Linked DNA regions of Homo sapiens: region 1 is linked to region 2. The links come from fine-mapping of genetic effects on gene expression. A gene starts in region 2. The other region holds a variant in brackets. All regions are shown on one strand. Distances are from middle to middle.

The links. PIP is the estimated chance that this variant, and not a neighbour inherited with it, causes the effect.
Region 1: its variant is fine-mapped to the expression of RAD17 in skeletal muscle (FUSION, PIP 0.95).

Annotation. Positions count from the first base shown.
Region 1 is chr5:69,394,562-69,403,548 of GRCh38, forward strand. It overlaps RAD17 (RAD17 checkpoint clamp loader component), which reads left to right. Exons shown (of 19, transcript NM_133338.3): 16 at 1,836-1,985; 17 at 5,488-5,608. Among named protein-coding and RNA genes, the nearest start is that of MARVELD2, 16 kb to the right of the region's middle. The variant T/G (reference allele first, on the strand shown) is at 5,552.
Region 2 is chr5:69,366,780-69,375,739 of GRCh38, forward strand. RAD17 (RAD17 checkpoint clamp loader component) reads left to right here and starts at 3,039. Exons shown (of 19, transcript NM_133338.3): 1 at 3,039-3,154; 2 at 4,256-4,392; 3 at 4,675-4,778; 4 at 5,255-5,438; 5 at 7,051-7,308; 6 at 7,849-7,932. The coding sequence starts at 5,430. AK6 (adenylate kinase 6) reads right to left here and starts at 2,741. Exons shown (of 5, transcript NM_016283.5): 1 at 2,684-2,741. The coding sequence starts at 2,711. TAF9 (TATA-box binding protein associated factor 9) reads right to left here and starts at 2,741. Exons shown (of 3, transcript NM_003187.5): 1 at 2,684-2,741. RefSeq lists an enhancer at 3,293-3,842.

The DNA.
Region 1 (8,987 bases), 28 kb after region 2:
ACAGCCACCAACCACATGTAGCTATTTACATTTAAATTTAAAAATTCAGTTCCTCAGTCATACTAGCCACATCTCCAGTACTTGATAACTGCATGTGGCTGATGGCTACTTTATTGAACAGCCCAGATACAAAACATTTCCATCATTGCAGGGCGTTCTGTTGGACGACACTATTTTGATACGTTAATATTTCTGTGTGCTATAAATATTAAAATAAGGCCGGGCTCAGTGGGTCACACCTGTAAACCCAGCACTTAAGGAGGCCGAGGCAGGTGGATCACTTGAGCTCATGAGTATGAGACCAGCTGGGGCAATGTGATGAAACCCCATCTCTACAAAAAAATACCAAGAAAATTGTTTGGGTGTAGTGGTCCCAGCTACTCAGGAGGCTGAGGTGGGAGGATGGCTTGAGCCTGGGAGGCAGAGGTTGCAGTGAGCTGAGATCACACCACTGCACTCCAGCCTGGGCAATAGAGCTGGACCTTGTCTCAAAAAATTAAAAAATTGAAATAGCAGTAATAAGTAAAATTAGGAAAGACACAGAAAAACCATTTATGTTATAGAGCTTCATTACTCAGCAGTTGAATTTGCTTAACTTTTAAAATAATTGTTTCTTTCTTATTTTGAAATTTTCCATCCTATAAATAAATTAAAAGGATAGTACAATGAGCCAGGAGTGGTGGTTCCTGCCAGTAATTCTGCACTTTGGGAGTCCAAGGCAGGAAGATCACTTGAGGCCAGAAGTTTGAGAACAGCCTGGGAAACACAGCGAGACCCCATCTCTAGAAGAGATTTTAAAAATTAGCTGGGTATGGTGGCATGCACCTGTAGTCGTAGCTACTTGGGAGGCTGTGGTGGGAGAATCACTTGAGCCCAGGAGTTTGAGGTGGTAGTGAGCTGTGATCGTGCCACCACATTCCAGGCTGGGCAACAGACTGAGACCCTATTTTAAATAATAATACAAAATAACGAAAAGAGTATAATTGACTTGTTTGTGACACCAAGGATAAATGCTTGAGGTAATGGATACCCCATTTAACTTGAGGTAATTATTACACATTGTATGCTGGTATCAAAATGACCCCTGTACCTCATAAATATATACAGCTACTAAGTACCCACACAAATTAAAAATTAAAAAAAAATGATAGTACAATGAATAGCTGCATATCCTTAACTTTTGTTTAGCAGTTTGCATATTTTGCCACTTTTTCTTAATCTCTCTATATATTTACGTATTTGTTTCTGGCTGAATAATTGGAAAGTATTAGTAATTGCGAACATCGTGACACTTAAGCAGCATAAGGACATTGTTCTATTACAACTACCATAGCATTATCATACCCCATTGAAACTAAAATATAACTAGTTGATATAACTGGCCTCTCAAAGTGCTGGGATTACAGGCGTGAGCCACTGCGCCCAGCTGCATAGTCATATTTTAGTTTCAATTATATTTTAGTTATATTAACTAATTAGTTACATTAACTAATTAGTTATATAATTAAGTTAACTTTCCAGAGAAACTTCACACTAATCTAGCAATATATTGTCCCTATTCAGATTTCCTCATTTGCCTCAAAAATGTATTCAAAGTTGTTTCCTCCACCCCTGTCCAAGATCCAGTCAGGGTTTACACATTTAATTTGATGGCTATGTCCCAGTGGAATTTGCTTTAGATAAGTTTATAGTGCTGTTATTTATAGGGCTGTAGTGATGTTGAAGAAAGTGAACACATAGAAACTAAATACGGTTAGTATTTTTGTATATATCAGGAATACCAGTAATGCTCTTTTATAAATCTATTTTCTTTCACATCTTGTCTCATTTGTTAGACACGCTCTTTACTCAGGGAATATAGCACATCTATAGCTACGAGAGGTGTGATGCATTCCAACAAAGCCCGAGGATATGCTCATTGCCAAGGAGGAGGATCAAGTTTTCGACCCTTGCACAAACCTCAGTGGTTTCTAATAAATAAAAAGGTAAAAAAAAAAAAAAAAATTCTGTACTTTCAATATGTGAACTTTATGGTACGTGAATTATAACTCAAAGCAGTTATTTTCTTTAAAACATAACAAAGGAAAAAATATTTCATTTTTAATAAAATAGTTGCTAAGGTCCACAATTAGATTCTGAGTTTTTATAAAACATAAAAAGGTGACTCTTAAATGCTTGTACAATTTTTTAAGGGAAAAAAGACCATCACAATTTGAAAATATTAGTTCAGTTTTATTGGAATCAAAGCGTAGTTACATTTTATTTTATTTTTTATTTTTTTATTTTTTGAGACGGAGTTTCGCTCTTTTTGCCCAGGCTGGAATGCAATGGCATGATCTCGGCTCACTGCAACCTCCGCCTCCCGGGTTCAAGCAGTTCTCCTGCCTCAGCCTCCCAGGTAGCTGGGATTACAGGCGCCAGCCACCACGCCTGGCTAATTTTTTGTATTTTTAGTAGAGACAGGGTTTCACCATGTTGGCCAGGTTGGTCTCGATCTTTGGACCTCATGATCCTCTTGCCTTGGCCTCTCAAAGTGCTGGGATTACAAATGTGAGACACCATGCTCGGCCATATTTTATTTTTTATTTTTTATTTTTATTCAGACAGAGTCGTTCTCTTGCCTAGGCTGGAGTGCAGTGGTGCCATCTCTGCTCACTGCAACCTCTACCTCCTAGGTTCAAGCAATTCTCCCACCTCAGCCTCCTGAGTAGCTGGGATTACAGGCATCTACCTCCATGCCCAGCTAATTTTTGTATTTTTAGTAGAGATGGGGTTTTGCCATGTTGGCCAGGCTGTTCTTGAACTCCTGACCTTAAGTGATCTGCCCGCCTTGGCCTCTCAAAGTGCTGGGATTACAGGCATGAGCCACTGTGCCCAGCTGCATAGTTATATTTCAGTTTCAATTAAAAACAAACTTTAGGGCCAGGCATGGTGGCTCACACCTGTAATCCCAGCACTGTGGAAGGCCAAAACAAGAGGATCACTTGAGCCCAGGAGTTTGAGACCAGCCTGGTCAACATAGTGAGATCCCATATCTACAAGAAAAAGAAAAAAATTGTAAATAAATAAACCCTAGTTCAACCTGAGAATGCTGATTGGAAAATAGAAATCCCTAGTATATAAAATTTCAGTTAGGCAGGAGGAATAAGTTTTTTTTGTTTTTGGTTTTTGAGACGGAGCCTCGCTGGCCAGGAGGAATAAGTTTTAAGTTCAAGAGATATGTTGTATAACATGGTGACTATTAACAACAATGTGTCATGTATTTGAAAATCATGGCCGGGCATGGTGGCTCACGCCTGTAATCCCAGCACTTTGGGAGGCTGAGGCGGGCAGATCACGAGGTCAGGAGATGGAGACCATCCTGGCTAACACGATGAAACCCTGTCTGTACTAAAAATAAAAAAACTTAGCCGGGTGTGGCGGCGTGCGCCTGTAGTCCCAACTACTCTGGAGGCTGAGGCAGGAGAATGGCGTGAACCCAGGAGGCGGAGCTTGCAGTGAGCTGACATGGCGCCACTGCACTCCAGCCTGAGAGACAGAGCGAGACTCCATCTAAAAAAAAAAAAAGAAAATCACTAAAACGGTAGATTTTAAGTGTTCTCACCACACACAAAAAATATATGTATGTAAGGTAATGCATATGTTAATTGGCTCAATTTAGCCATTCTACCATATATACATATTTCAGAACATCATGTTGTATACCTATAAATACATACAGAGCTTATTTGTCAATTTAAATTAATCAAAGAAAGGAGAAGAAATCTTGGCCTTGCCTCTATATGGACAAGGTATTCACCTAATGTGTTCTTACTCTCCACAGCTAAAAATGTAGATGATTGAATTATTTAGAGGTAAAAAATGGGAGGCACACAAGTTGAAAACAAAATACACAACAGTTTTCAAAATGAATTGCCAATCTTTAAAAATCAGACTAATGATTAAAAGTCAGATATGAATTTCGGCTGGGCGCTGTGACTCACACCTGTAATCCCAGCACTTTTGGGAGGCTGAGGCGGGCAGAACACAAGGTCAGGAGTTCGAGACCAGCCTGACTAACATGGTGAAACCCCATCGCTACTAAAAATACAAAAGTTTGCCAGGTGTGGTGGTGCGCTCCTGTAATCCCAGCTACTCAGGAGGCCGAAGCAGGAGAATCGCGTGAACCCGGGAGGCAGAAGTTGCAGTGAGCCGAGATCATGCCACTGCACTCCAGCCTAGGCGACAGAAAAAGACTCTGTCTCAGAAAGAAAAAAAAAAAGTTAGATATGAATTTCTAGCTTCAGAATTTCTGGAATCTCCTGGTTAAAAAAAAAAAAAAAAAAAAGAGGCCAGGTGCAGTGGCTCACACCTGTAATCCGAGCACTTTGGAAAGCTGAGGTGGAAGGATCACTAGAGCCCAGGAGTTTGAGACCTGCCTGGGCAATATGGTGAAACCCCATCTGTATAAAAAAAAAAATAATAAAAAAATTAGCTGGGTGTGGTGGCAAACACCAGGAATTTGAGACCAGCAATATAGTGAGATCCCATATCTACAGGAAAAAGGAAAAATTTTTTTTGTTTTTCCTACCTAGTCCCAGCTACTTGGGAGGCTGAATTGGGAGGATTGCATAAGCCTGGGAGGCAGAGTTTGCAGTGAACAATGATTGTGCCACTGCACTCCAGCCTGGGCAACAGAGTGAGACCCCCATCTCTCAAAAAAATGAAAGTGAAGTATAACACTGGCTCATATTTCTGCGTAGCAACAATCACCTCGCCATGTAGCATCTGCCCCTTTGAGATGAGAGTAGTAGGCACCACTGTCCCCAGCTGGTTCATTCACTTATATTGCCTGCTTGACTTCTGTAATATCTGAATTCGTGACCCCTGGACTGGGTCGTCTCTGAGATGTCTTCCAGTTCTAAAATCATACAGCTGAAAATTACCCTATAATTTATTACCTAGGACATTTTTTCCAACAGATTTCTTGGAGAATTTAATGACTTTTAAGCAATTTATATCTCATTGACTTGCTTTGTCTTTTATAGCATATATATTAATTTTGCATTGTTGCTGCATATAAATTATCTAAGACTGTTAGCTTCTTGAAGGCAGGGATTGTGCTTTTCTCTTGCTCAGCATAACGTGTTGACTAAAGAAAACAAATTATTTCATTGAAAACTATTTTCGTGTAATTTATGATGTGTGTGTGCTCATAAACAATTCCTTTGAGTTTTAAATTTGGTTTTCTTATACATTCAATGTCTTTTAAAAATTGTTGTTTATTAAATGTGGAATAGTTGTGTAGGTAAAATACTTTATTAAACGATGCTAAAAAAACTATAAAGGACTACTTAAATAAGCTATTAAAAGTATATTTGTGATATATAAACCCACAAGTTAATATAAACTTATTGTGTAAGTTTATATAATAAACTTAGTTTGTCTAGGAATACATATTTTTAATTTCATTTTTCCTTTCATCTTTTTTTTTTCTTTTCTATACAGTATCGGGAAAATTGCCTGGCAGCAAAAGCACTTTTTCCTGACTTCTGCCTACCAGCTTTATGCC[T/G]CCAAACTCAGCTATTGCCATACCTTGCTCTACTAACCATTCCAATGAGAAATCAAGGTAATAACATAGGTTTTTCTTTTCTTTTAAGAAGTAGGGTTTATTTATTTATTTATTTATTTTATTTTTTTAGGGGGAGTCTCTACTGTCCAGGCTGGATTGCGGTGGCACGATCTCGGCTCACTGCAACCTCTGCCTCCTGGGTTCAAGCAATTCTGTTCCCTCAGCCTTCTGAGTAGCTGGGACCACAGGCACGCGCCCCCACACCTGGCTAATTTTTGTATTTTTAGTAGAGATGGGGTTTCACTGTATTAGCCAGGATGGTCTCGATCTCCTGACCTTGTGATCTGCCTGCCTCGGCCCCCCAGAGTGCTGGGATTACAGGTGTGAGCCACCGCACACGGCCAGAAGTAGGGTTTTATAGCAATATCTTTTTGTGGGCCAATTTATTGCTATATGCAGTGAGATACTTTTTTTCCTTTTATTTTTTGATCCAGATAATTCTGGATCCTTTATGTTTTTTTTTTAAAACGCATCAAACAGGCCAGGTGCAGTGGCTCATGCCTGTAATCTCAGCACTTTGGAAGGTCAAGACAGGGAGATCACTGGAGGTTAGGAGTTCGAGACCAGCCTGGCCAACATGGTGAAACCCTGTCTCTACTAAAAATAAAAAAATTAGCCAGGTGTGGTGGCATGCGCTTGTAATCCCAGCTACTCGGGAGGCTGAGGCAGGAGAATCACTTGAACCCAGGAGGTGGAGGCTGCAGTGAGCCAAGATCGCACACCTGCACTCCAGGCTGGGTGACAAAGTGAGGTCTGTCTCAAAAAAACAAAAAGCATCAGATGATACAGAAATATATAAAGAGCCGAACGTGGTGGCTTATGCCTGTAATCCCAGCACTTTGGGAGGCCAAGGCTGGGAAACCCCATTTCTACTAAAAATACAAAAAATTAGCCAGGCGTGGTGGCACGCGTCTGTAATCCCAGCCACTCGGGAGGCTGAGGCAGGAGAACCTTCAACCCCGGAGGCGGAGGTTGCAGTGAGCCAAGATCAGGCCATTGCACTCCAGCCTGGGCGACAGAGCAAGACTGTCTCAGAAAAAAGAAAAAAGTTTCTAAAGTAAAAATTGAAAGTACTTCCCCTACAACCACAGGTTGCTTTGACAGATTAATGTAAATTCTTCCAGATACTCTTCTGTGGATGTAGAAACATGCAGAATGAGGCAAGCTTTAATTTGCTTATGTCACTTACTGTGGATAGCCTTTCATATCTTATAAGTTAATGTCAGAGCAGCAATCTCATTTTTTTCCAATTTGTAAACATTTTATTTAACCTTATGATGGATATTTTGGTGGATTTCAGTATTACAAAAATGCCTATTAATAGTATTTTTCATTATATTTCTGTTACGAAATTATAATGCTACAAACATTACTATGCCTGTGGCAGTATACATCTGCACAAGTTTTGAAAATGTTATGCATTCATAGGCAAAAATGGGATAACTTTTGGGCAGTGGTCATGATTAATCTGTTGATCAGAATCCAGAGATTGCCCTTCTCCTTGCCAATTGCTTTAAGAGTACACTAGTTTTTGGCCGGGTGCAGTGGCTCATGCCTGTAATCCCAGCACTTTGGGAGGCCAAGACGGGCGGATCACAAGGTCAGGAGATCGAGACCATCCTGGCTAACATGGTGAAACCCCATCTCTACTAAAAATACAAAAAAAACCCACAAAAAACAAAAAAACCAGGCCTGGTGGTGGGTGCCTGTAGTCCCAGCTACTTGGGAGGCTGAGGCGGGAGAATGGCATGAACCTGGGAGGCGGAGCTTGCAGTGAGCCGAGATTGCACCACTGCCCTCCAGCCTGGGCAACAGAGCAAGACTCTGTCTCAAAAAAAAAAAAAAAAAAAAAAAAGATTACACTAGTTTTTAAACTTTTTGTTTTTTTTTTTGAGATGGAGTTTCACTCTTGTTGCTGAGGCTGGAGTGCAATGGCATGATCTCGACTTACTGCAACCTCTGCCTCCCAGGTTCAAGCGATTCTCCTGCCTCAGCCTCCAAAGTAGCTGGGATTACAGGCATGTGCCACAACACCCGGCTAATTTTTTTTGTATTTTTAGTAGAGGTGGGGTGTCACCATGTTGGCCAGGCTGATCTCGAACTCCTGGCCTTAAGTGATCTGCCCACCTCGGACTCCCAAAGTGCGGAATTACAGGCGTGAGCCACCGCGCCCGGCCACTGGTTTTTAAACTTTATTTTGAAATTATTTCAGGCTGGGCGCAGTGGTTCACGCCTGTAATCCCAACACTTTGGGAGGCCGAGGCGGGCGGATCACGAGGTCAGGAGATCAAGACCATCCTGGCTAACCCCGTCTCTACTAAAAATATAAAAAATCAGCCGGGCACGGTGGCAGGTGCCTGTAGTCCCAGCTACTCAGTGGGCTGAGGCAGGAGAATGGTATGAACCCGGGAGGCGGAGCTTGCAGTGAGCTGAGATCACGCCACTGCACTCCAGCCTGGGAGACAGAGTGAGACTCTGTCTCAAAAAAAAAAAAAAATTATTTTAAATGTAAGGATGCAAGAATAGTACAAAAAATTCTTGTATATCCTTCACTAAGTTTCCTGATTATTACATTTTTTACCATATTTGCCTGATTATATTCTCTCTCTTTATAAGCATGCACATATATGTATTATTTTGCTAAACTAGTCTTGAGTAAATTGCAGGCATGATATCCCATTATTCTTAAAAACTTAAGTCTGCACTTGCCAAAAACAAGGACATTTTCCTGCATAACCACAGTGTGCAATCAAATCAGGAAATTAACTTAATACCGTTTATTTTATAGTCCCCATTCAAATTTTTCCAATTGTCCTAATAATATCCTTTTTTAATTATTTTTAATTAATAGAGATGGGATCTCGCTTTGTTGGCCAGGTTGGTCTTGAACTGCTGGCCTCAAGCAATCCTCTTGCCTCAGCCTCCCAAAGGGCTAGGATTATAGGCACAGGCCACTGCACCCAGCCCTAATAATCTCCTTTGTAAAATGATAACTCCCCATTTCTTGTCCAGAATCCAATGAAAGATAACCTGATGCATTTAGTGATTTAGTTTCCGTGTGTTTTTAGTCTCCCTTGATCTGGAACAGTTTTGTAGTCTTTCTTTGTCCATGACATTTTAGAGGGATATAGGACAGTTACTGTACGATCCCTCAATTTGGGTTTGTCTGGTGATTCCTCATTATTGGATTCAGGATATGTATTTTTTTGGCAGAAATACCACAGAAGTGATCTTAAAAAAAATTGGCAAGGAGAGGAAAGATATCTGGATTCTGACCAACAGATTCATCATGTCCACTGCATAAACGTTATTTTTGCCTATGAATACACAACATTTTAAACACTTTAAGTATCAGTACTTACAAAAGCTGTAAGAT
Region 2 (8,960 bases):
CAGAGTTTCACTCTTGTCGCCCAGGCTGGAGTGCAGTGGCACAATCTTGGCTCACTGCAACCTCCACCTCCCAGGTTCAAGCGATTCTCCTGCCTCAGTCTCCTCAGTAGCTGGAATTACAGGTGCCCACCACCATACCCAGCTAATTTTTGTATTTTCAGTAGAGACCGGGTTTCACCATATTGGCCAGGCTGGTCTCAAACTCCTAACCTCAGGTGATCTGCCAGCCTCGGCCTCCTAAAGTGCTGGGATTACAGGCGTGAGCCACCATGCCTGGCCATATGTAAATTAGCATGTACTACGATCTAATAAAAATTTTCCAAAGCTAACTGAATGTCAGAATATTACCCAGTGTATTGATTCTCCAGGGGTGGGGCTCAGCAGATTCTGACGCCAATTCAAACTGCCTGCTGCTACCGGGGAACTGCTGAGAATAAAATTAGCCATCTCGTGCTGGGCGCAGTGGCTCATGCCTGTAATCACCGCACTTTGGGAGGCCGAGGCGGGCAGATCACAAGGTCAGGAGATTGAGACAATCCTGGCCAACATAGTGAAACTACATCTCTATTAAAATACAAAAATTAGCCGGGCGTGGTGGCGCGTGCCTGTAATCCCAGCTACTCAGGAGGCTGAGGCAGGAGAATCCCTTGAACCAGGTAGTTGTAGGATGCAGTGAGCCAAGATCGCGCCACAGCACTCCAGCCTGGCGACAGAGACTCCATCTCAAAAAAAAAAAAAAAAAAATTAGCCACCTCGAATCAATTACAATAATTTATTTACCTTTTTCTTTTTTTAAAGACAAGATATCTCTTTGTTACCTAGGCTGGAGTGCAGTGGAACTTGGCTCACTAGAGCCTTTACCTCCTGGGCTCAAGCAATCCTCCCATCTCAGCCTGTCCGGTAGCTAGGACCACAGGTATGCACCACCATGCCCTGGTTAATTTTTGTAGAGACGGGGTTTGGCTATGTTGCTTAGGCTAAGCTCAAACTCCTGAGCTCAAGCGATCTCCCCACCTCCACCTCCCAAAGTGCTGGGATTTACAGGCATGAGCCACCCACCTGGCCTATTTGCTTTAACTTATAAAGATTTAAAAACTGTTCATGGCCACGTGTGGTGGCTCGCGCGTGTAATCCCAGCAATTTGGGAGGAGAAGGCGGGAGGATCGCTTAAGCGCAGGAGTTCGAGACCAGCCTGGCCAACATAATGAGACTCTGTCTCAAACAAAAACAAAAACAAGAACAAAAACAAAACTGTTCATGTTAAAATTAAGCAGTCTGAAAATTACCTCTACTGACCCCTTGCGCCCTTCCCTAGAGATAACCACTGTAAACCAGTTTCCTTTCCCAAAGAAACCCTATTTATGTTTGCATGTAAATGTACATATATGTACATACTCTTTGTTATATAAATACAACACATATTCCCTTTTACATAAATGACAATACTATATACATTGTTCTTTACCTTCCCCTTCTGATACCTATTAAAATTACATTTCAAGATCATCAAATTCATAATTTTCAGCTATTCAGATTTAACATCCCTGAAATTAAACTTAAGCATAAAGATAACAGGGATAATCCAGTTCCCATACCCAGGAGAATAACGGTCACCTCAAGTCCACTATAATACACCAAGTCTGAACCCTGGACTCAACATGTTTTCAATAAAATGTTCACTTTAAAGTTTTGACAATGACTTAATAACCAGGGCACTATGTTTGATCCATGCAAAAAGATGTAAAATCTTCCGCTTAAGGAATCTAAAATTCTAAACGTTATTTGTGGGGTGGTTAATCTGCACCTCTCAGAAACAGACATGTCTTGTGCGCTGCCAACAATTTTACCTTTGGGTGAATGATGTAACTTTACTGTTCCCACAAAGAGTCTTAATTTTTCTGTACCTTGCAATAAAATCTACATGCATTAGATTTTTCCACGAATGGCCTACAATTTGATAAACACTTTCAGGACTAAACGGCTAGCAAAAATATTCGTTAAAGTCGTTATGCAGCATTTTAATTCCCTTCACTGATAACATGCACCCTGAGTATGGCTTCAAAGACCCACTCCTACGCGAGAAACGACCCGAAATGCTCTATATGCCTTCCTTTTAAGGGGCGGGGGGATCCTTTGATGTAACTCAACAAAAGCATACAGCAATTTCGTCACGTCACAAACATCTGAACTCGTTTACCGAAATCTAATCTGAGGCGTTTATCAGAAGCAAAGAAAAAATAAAATACGGCCCACGGAGGCCTAAGGAGTGAGGCATCCACCATTAATGACTCTACCGGGAAGCAGATATGGCCTTACGTTATTTCGCTAAAAATCCCAAGGCCAACCCTGCCAAAGAATCAACAACCCATTTTACAAACGAAATACCAGATTCAGAAAGACTAAGCAGGTTGCCAAGCTGGAGAGCTGGATCTGCCGACCTCTCTCCACCCCCCCCCGCCCCCCCCCGGAGCCTCAGGCCAACGGAATTAACGTTCCGCGTCCCCTCCCTCGCCTCCCGCAACGCCCGCGAGGGTCGGCTCCCGGGGCGCTGACAACCGCCTCGTGGCCCTCGGCCGGCCTCTGAAGAGGGCAGTGAGGGGCCCCCACCTGGGCGCCCGATGCCCAGAGCACTCTGCGCCCCCAGCCTGCCCCAGCCCAGTCCCTCCCGGCCGCGCGCCCTGACCGGTGAGCAGGATGTTCGGAAGCAACATGGTCCCCGCCGCGACGGCTTCGGGCGCCTCGCTCACGTGCCCTTTGCTCTACAGGGAGGAGCCGGAAGGGGCGGGCGGCAGCAAAAGCCCACGGCCCCAAAGGCCCCGAAGCCCACCGCGGCGCCCCTAGCCTGCCCCGGCGGCCCAGCCGCGGCCCACTGGTTACCTGGCTTTCGATGACACATTTCCGTCGCAAAGTTGGAGGGTGGGCATAACTCGGGTCGGTACTTCGGGTCAGGCAGTGCGCTGGATGCCTAAGTCACACACTCCTTCGGTGGTCCCCGCCCTTCGCTTGCGCCGACCAGTCTGGAAGGTCCCCGGGAGGCCGTACCTCCGAGAGGCTCGGCGTTGAGCCCGGGTAGGGCCAGGTGGCTGCCCTTTCACCTAGGGTAGTCCCTGGTCGCCTCCGCTCTTCGCCTAAAAGGGGATGCAGCTCCGGGAAAGTAAGGCCGCCGCGGTTGCGGCTATATTATGTATATGTCTTAGAGACGTGAGTCTATCTCTGCCTTCAAGCTTTCCTGGGCTCTCGTCGCTCCTCCTCCCGACCCGCCCATCCCATCTGGGGATGAGAAGATTGAGGGTGCAGAGCCCTGTCCTGCAGCGGGGATTTGCGAGCTCAACCCGGCACCCCACTGATTACAGGATTACGTTGGACGAATATTTGAGCTTAGTATTCCCTGTTCACTGTGTGGGGTGGTGGTGGGTCGGCTAGGAATAGTCTTGAAGGTCTACCTCTGACATCTCATTTCAGTAACCTCGCATCTTCAGGGACAGTTATCTGCTTTTTAAAGGAGGTAATTGTCAATCTTGTTTTCAAGAGTGAATAGAGACCTGACCGTGACAACAGTCTGCACCTTTTTTTGTTTGTTTGTTTGTTTTTGTTTTGTTTTGAGACGGAGTCTCACTCTTGTCGCCCAGGCTGGAGTGCAACCTCCGCCTCCTGGGTTCAAGTGATTCTCCTGCCTTAGCCTCCAGAGTAGCTGGGATTACAGGCGCCCACCACCACGCCCGGCTAATTTTTGCATTTTTAATAGAGACGGGGTTTCACCATGTTTTGGCCAGGCTGGTCTCAAACTCCTGACCTCAGATGATCCGCCCGCCTCGTCCTCCCACGGTGCTGGGATTACAGGCATGAGCCACCGCGTCCGGCCCCTGGTCTGCATCTTTTATTTCGAGCTACAAACTATATTTACTCAAATAGGTGTTTTTTTTCCACCTGTATACCTTTTGAAACGTCACAGTCTCTAATCGTGAACGATTTGGGGCGGAGGGCTGAACAATGTGTTTTCTAGTGTGTCGAGGTGTTTATAGGCTATGTGTGCCTCCAAACTGTAAAGTAGTCCAGTATACTTTCCAATGTATAAGTTTGTAGACCTTAAACTTTTCTTCTGGCTAACTTAAAATCGTTGAATTCACTAGTTTGCATAAACATTTAAGAATTTGAAAACACGGTTGAAAAACAGTGTTACCAAGAAATTTTGTAATAACATGTTCAAATGAAGACAAAAATTTTACAGTTTAAGACTTAAATTCTTCGTCCACAGCAAGTGAATTCATGGTATTTTACTTTTTTGGGAAATACTGGAAATGAAGACCTGCAACTGTAATTTGAAATAAGGAAAACTTTAATTTTCAGTATAAAAATTGCTCAAATAGAATTGCCTGATTTTAATGACAAAAGGTAAGTACATAGTATGTGTGGTTTTTTTGTTTTTTTTTTTCTAATACATCATTGAGTTCATGTGAAAAACTCTTAACACCACAAGTAGATTATTTGATACAGTTATAGTCATTAAAATTATTTTAGAATTTTGATTTCTTGTATCACTTAAATTTACTGTTCTTTTTCACTAGTTCTTGAGCCTTTATTGTATTGTTGATTATATCAGTATACATTTATTACTATAATTGGGCATTTACAGTTTTTCTTCATTTGAGGGCTTCTTCCCCCCCCCCCCCCCAGGTGAATTATAGTTTAATGTACTGCAAGTCCTAAACTACGGATGGGAACTATTACAGTTTATAATGTCAAAAACTTTTCTTAGACCAAAGGTATCTTCCACAAAGGTATGATACACTGGAATGGCCATGTAATAATTGCCTTAAAATAATTATAAATTTTTATATATATTCTTAATAACTTATTACTGCTATCAAAGTAATAGAGCCGAGTATCTATTGTAATTAATGATTTAAGCAAGTCTGGTAATAAGTTGTGAAACAAGTGTTCTCTAAAAGCACAACCTTAATTTTGAAAAAGTGTTTTACAGTCCCAGTCACAAAGGCTGAAAACATTTGAATGAAAGAACATAGAAGAGAGAAATATGAGTGGTAGTTGGTGTTATAGCTTAACCAAAAGCACTGCTTCTTAGAAGTAATGTAATTCAGTGTGTGAGTTCTCAGCAAGATAGGGGTTAAGGTGGGATGGGGGTCAGACAGTTTCATGCATGCAGGGTAGCTATTTCCCTAAGTGGTAGCTCTAAATTTTCTTTGATGTTAAGTAAGTTACTTAACTTTGCTGTTTATCTTTCTCTTTTTTTCAGTATATGGGAGTCCACATTTATGTAAGAAATGAAACTATAAAATGTATAAATAATTTGCAAATCAGAATTGCTGTCGAAAGTTTTACTATAATGAAAGATATTTTCATACTCTCAAAAATATAGAGGAAAGGGGCCAAGATTATAGTACCAGTCACAATCTTTTGATGAGGACGAAATGAATCAGGTAGCTATGACTAAAATTTTTTCCAGTGGTCTTCCTTTTTTAATCCACTGCCGATAATATTCCTAACTCTGTCTTAAAAGAAGAGTGAAGTGTGACTTAGCATTCGTAAAGTATTTATAAGCCCCAAATTGTCTCCCCTAAGCCTACTTTCAGCTCCAACTTCTGGTTCATTTTCTTCAAGAGAGGAACATTGTCTAATAAATAGCTCAACTGTGGCTGAGTATTCTTGAAAGAAATATATAACTTGGTTTCTTTTTGTTAGCCAGGCAGTAGATTCTACAACCAGATCTGAAGCTATATTTTTCTAGATTTATGCTATTAGAGTGTTAAAAAATCTAGTAAAAATTTCTAATTTCTAATTATTTGTAATTATTAGCTAATAATTTCTAATTATTAGCAAAATTTTTTTTTTGAGACAGGGTCTCACTCTGTTGCCCGGGCTGGAGTGCAGTGGGGTGATCATGGTTCACTGCAACCTTGACCTCCCGCGCTCAAGTGATTCTCCCACCTTAGCCCCCCAAGTAGCTGGGAATACAGGCGTGCGCCACCATGCCTGGCTAATTTTTTATTTTTTGTAGAGTTGGGGTCTCCCTATGTTATGCTAGCTGTTCTCAAACTCCTGGGCTCAGCAATCCTACTGCCTCTGCCTCTGAATGTGCTGGAATTATAGGTGTGAGCTACCACACCCAACCATTCCCAGGCATTTCTGAGTGACAGTTCCCCCTCTGGAAAGCCTGCCTCAATTATAAAAATATTAGTTGCTTCATACACTGAAGAAAAATATAATCCAGTCATAATTACAGATTACGTTATGATCTTTGGCCTATATCTTCACTAAGTCTTCAAGCTGATACGGATTATTTGGATGTATGAAATGGTTCTTAGTTTGTGAATGTATTAACCTGGCCAAGGCAGATATATTACTCTTATTGCTGTTTCTGTTAAAATATTATCATTTGTTTATTTTGTTTTGCTTTTTTTAATAGGTAATTTTAATATTTATGTTTCAATCCTACAGAGAGTTTAAAAAAATCATTCTAGTGTTTATGCTGGGAAGGTTACAATTAATAAAAATAAGTTTGTGTTCTTTACTCCTTTAAGGTCAAGTAGACAAGTATGCACTTGCACTTACTGTAAAGTAGAAAAACAACTATTACAGACAGAGTTTTATTTAAAAAGAGTTAATTTGTAAGATTTTTAGGCCGGGTATGGTGGCTTATACCTTTAATCCCAGCTCTTTGGGAGGCTGATGTGAGAGGATCACTTGAGCCCAAGAATTGTTTGAGACCAGCCTGGGCAACATGGCAAAAACCCATCTCTACAAAAAATACAAAAAAATTAGTTGGGCATGGTGGTGCATGCCTGTAGTCCCAGTTACTCAAGAGGCTGAGGCTGGAGGATTGCTTGAGCTGAGATTATACCACTGCAGTCCAGCCTGGGTGACAGAGTGAGACCCGGTCTCAAAAAAATTTTTTTTTTTTTTTTTTTTTTTTTTTTTTAAGTTTTAAAGGTTATAAATATATGAATATGTTGTTTCCAGAGTAGTTCAGTTATTTGGGGGAATAGATGGGAGAAAATGTGATTATATTTACATGATTTCTTTTTTTTTCAGGTAACAGACTGGGTTGACCCATCATTTGATGATTTTCTAGAGTGTAGTGGCGTCTCTACTATTACTGCCACATCATTAGGTGTGAATAACTCAAGTCATAGAAGAAAAAATGGGCCTTCTACATTAGAAAGCAGCAGATTTCCAGCGAGAAAAAGAGGAAATCTATCTTCCTTAGAACAGATTTATGGTTTAGAAAATTCAAAAGAATATCTGTCTGAAAATGAACCATGGGTGGATAAATATAAACCAGAAACTCAGGTACTGAAAAGCATGCAGACATATCTACATAATTTAATTTCAGGGTGCATAAGGGTAGATGGGAAGCAGAGGGATTTACATTTTCAGATTTTTTACTCATAAGAATCTTTCTAAGTGTTAGAAAAAATTCTGGATTTTTTTATTTTCCAAGGCTTAGATTTTTCTCAATAGTTATTCTAAAGTTGTATGATTAGTTGTCTTAGATTTAATTTAATCCCAACATAGAATTGATCTTTTTAAAAATTTTTGTACTAAATGTAATACTCCTCTCTACTGTCTTCTCAAAATGTATTTCTGAATTTTAAAAAATGTTATAACTGCAAACTTGCCAAAATTATCATACAGAGGTATCAACTTAAGAATATAATTTTTCCATAATAGTATAAAAATTCAAGTATAATCAAAAGGATCATTTTATTATATAGATTGTTACTGATTTGCTACTTCTTTTCGTTAATAATGCTTAGGTTCATATGTGCTGATGTACCAAAAAATCTTCAGTTAAGAAGTTTTGTTTTAAATTTGAAATTTTTGTTGTAGCATGAACTTGCTGTGCATAAAAAGAAAATTGAAGAAGTCGAAACCTGGTTAAAAGCTCAAGTTTTAGAAAGGCAACCAAAACAGGTAACTAAGAAATGTGTTTTTAAATATTTAACATCAAATATTTTTCTGACTTACAGTGTGTTGTTAGAAGTTAAAGTTTTATGATGATTTTGTTCAAAATAAGTCTAGATCTCCTGCAGTAGAAAGCTCCCTAGTGGGGCATGGTGACTCATGCCTGTAATCCCAGCACTTTGGGAGGCCAAGGCAGGAGGATCACTTGAGCCCAGGAGTTCGAGAGCAGCCTGGGCAACATAGGGAGACTGTCTCTACAGCTAATTAGCTGGGCATTGTGGTGCATGCCTCTGGTCTCAGCTACTTGGGAAGCTGAGGTGGGAGGATCGCCTGAGCCCAGAAGGTGGAAGCTGCAGTGAGCTGTGATCACACTAGTACACTCTAGCCTGGGCAACAGAGCAATACCAAAAACCGTAAAAAGCAAAACAAAACAAAAAGCGAAAAAGAAAGCTTCATGACTTTACTACTTCCAACTTGACTAAAAGACTCAGAGACTTTGAGTTTTCCCCTTTATTTGTAACTCTTTTTCTTTATGTCTTATTGTTAGCATAAAGAATCAGTAAACCAATTAGGGTGCTAGTGTATTTAGCACATCAGATTATCTCAGGCTGAGGAAAGCAGGCAAATTACATGTTAGTTTCTCTACTAAATATAGCCAAAAACAGTCATTATTTATTTTAGACTGATATTTTTTGTTTCACTTCCTTACTGCACAATTACCTTGAACCCCCAAGGTAGAATATTCTCTCCTTCCATCAGTCTCCCTTTTTAAATGTTTTTTATTTTGAGATTTTTCAAGCATAAAAGAAAATAGAATAATAAAAAAATATATATAGAATATACTCATTGTTTCCCCCTTAAGTATTTTAAAGTAAATTATAAACATTGTGACATTTCAGTTAGACTTTTAGATACTTCAGTATGTCTGTTTTTTTAAAAAAATGATTTTCCTAATTAATTATGCATACCATTATTCTCTCTAACAAAGTTAACCAGGATGCCGTAATGCTGTCTAATGATGAATTCATATTCACGTT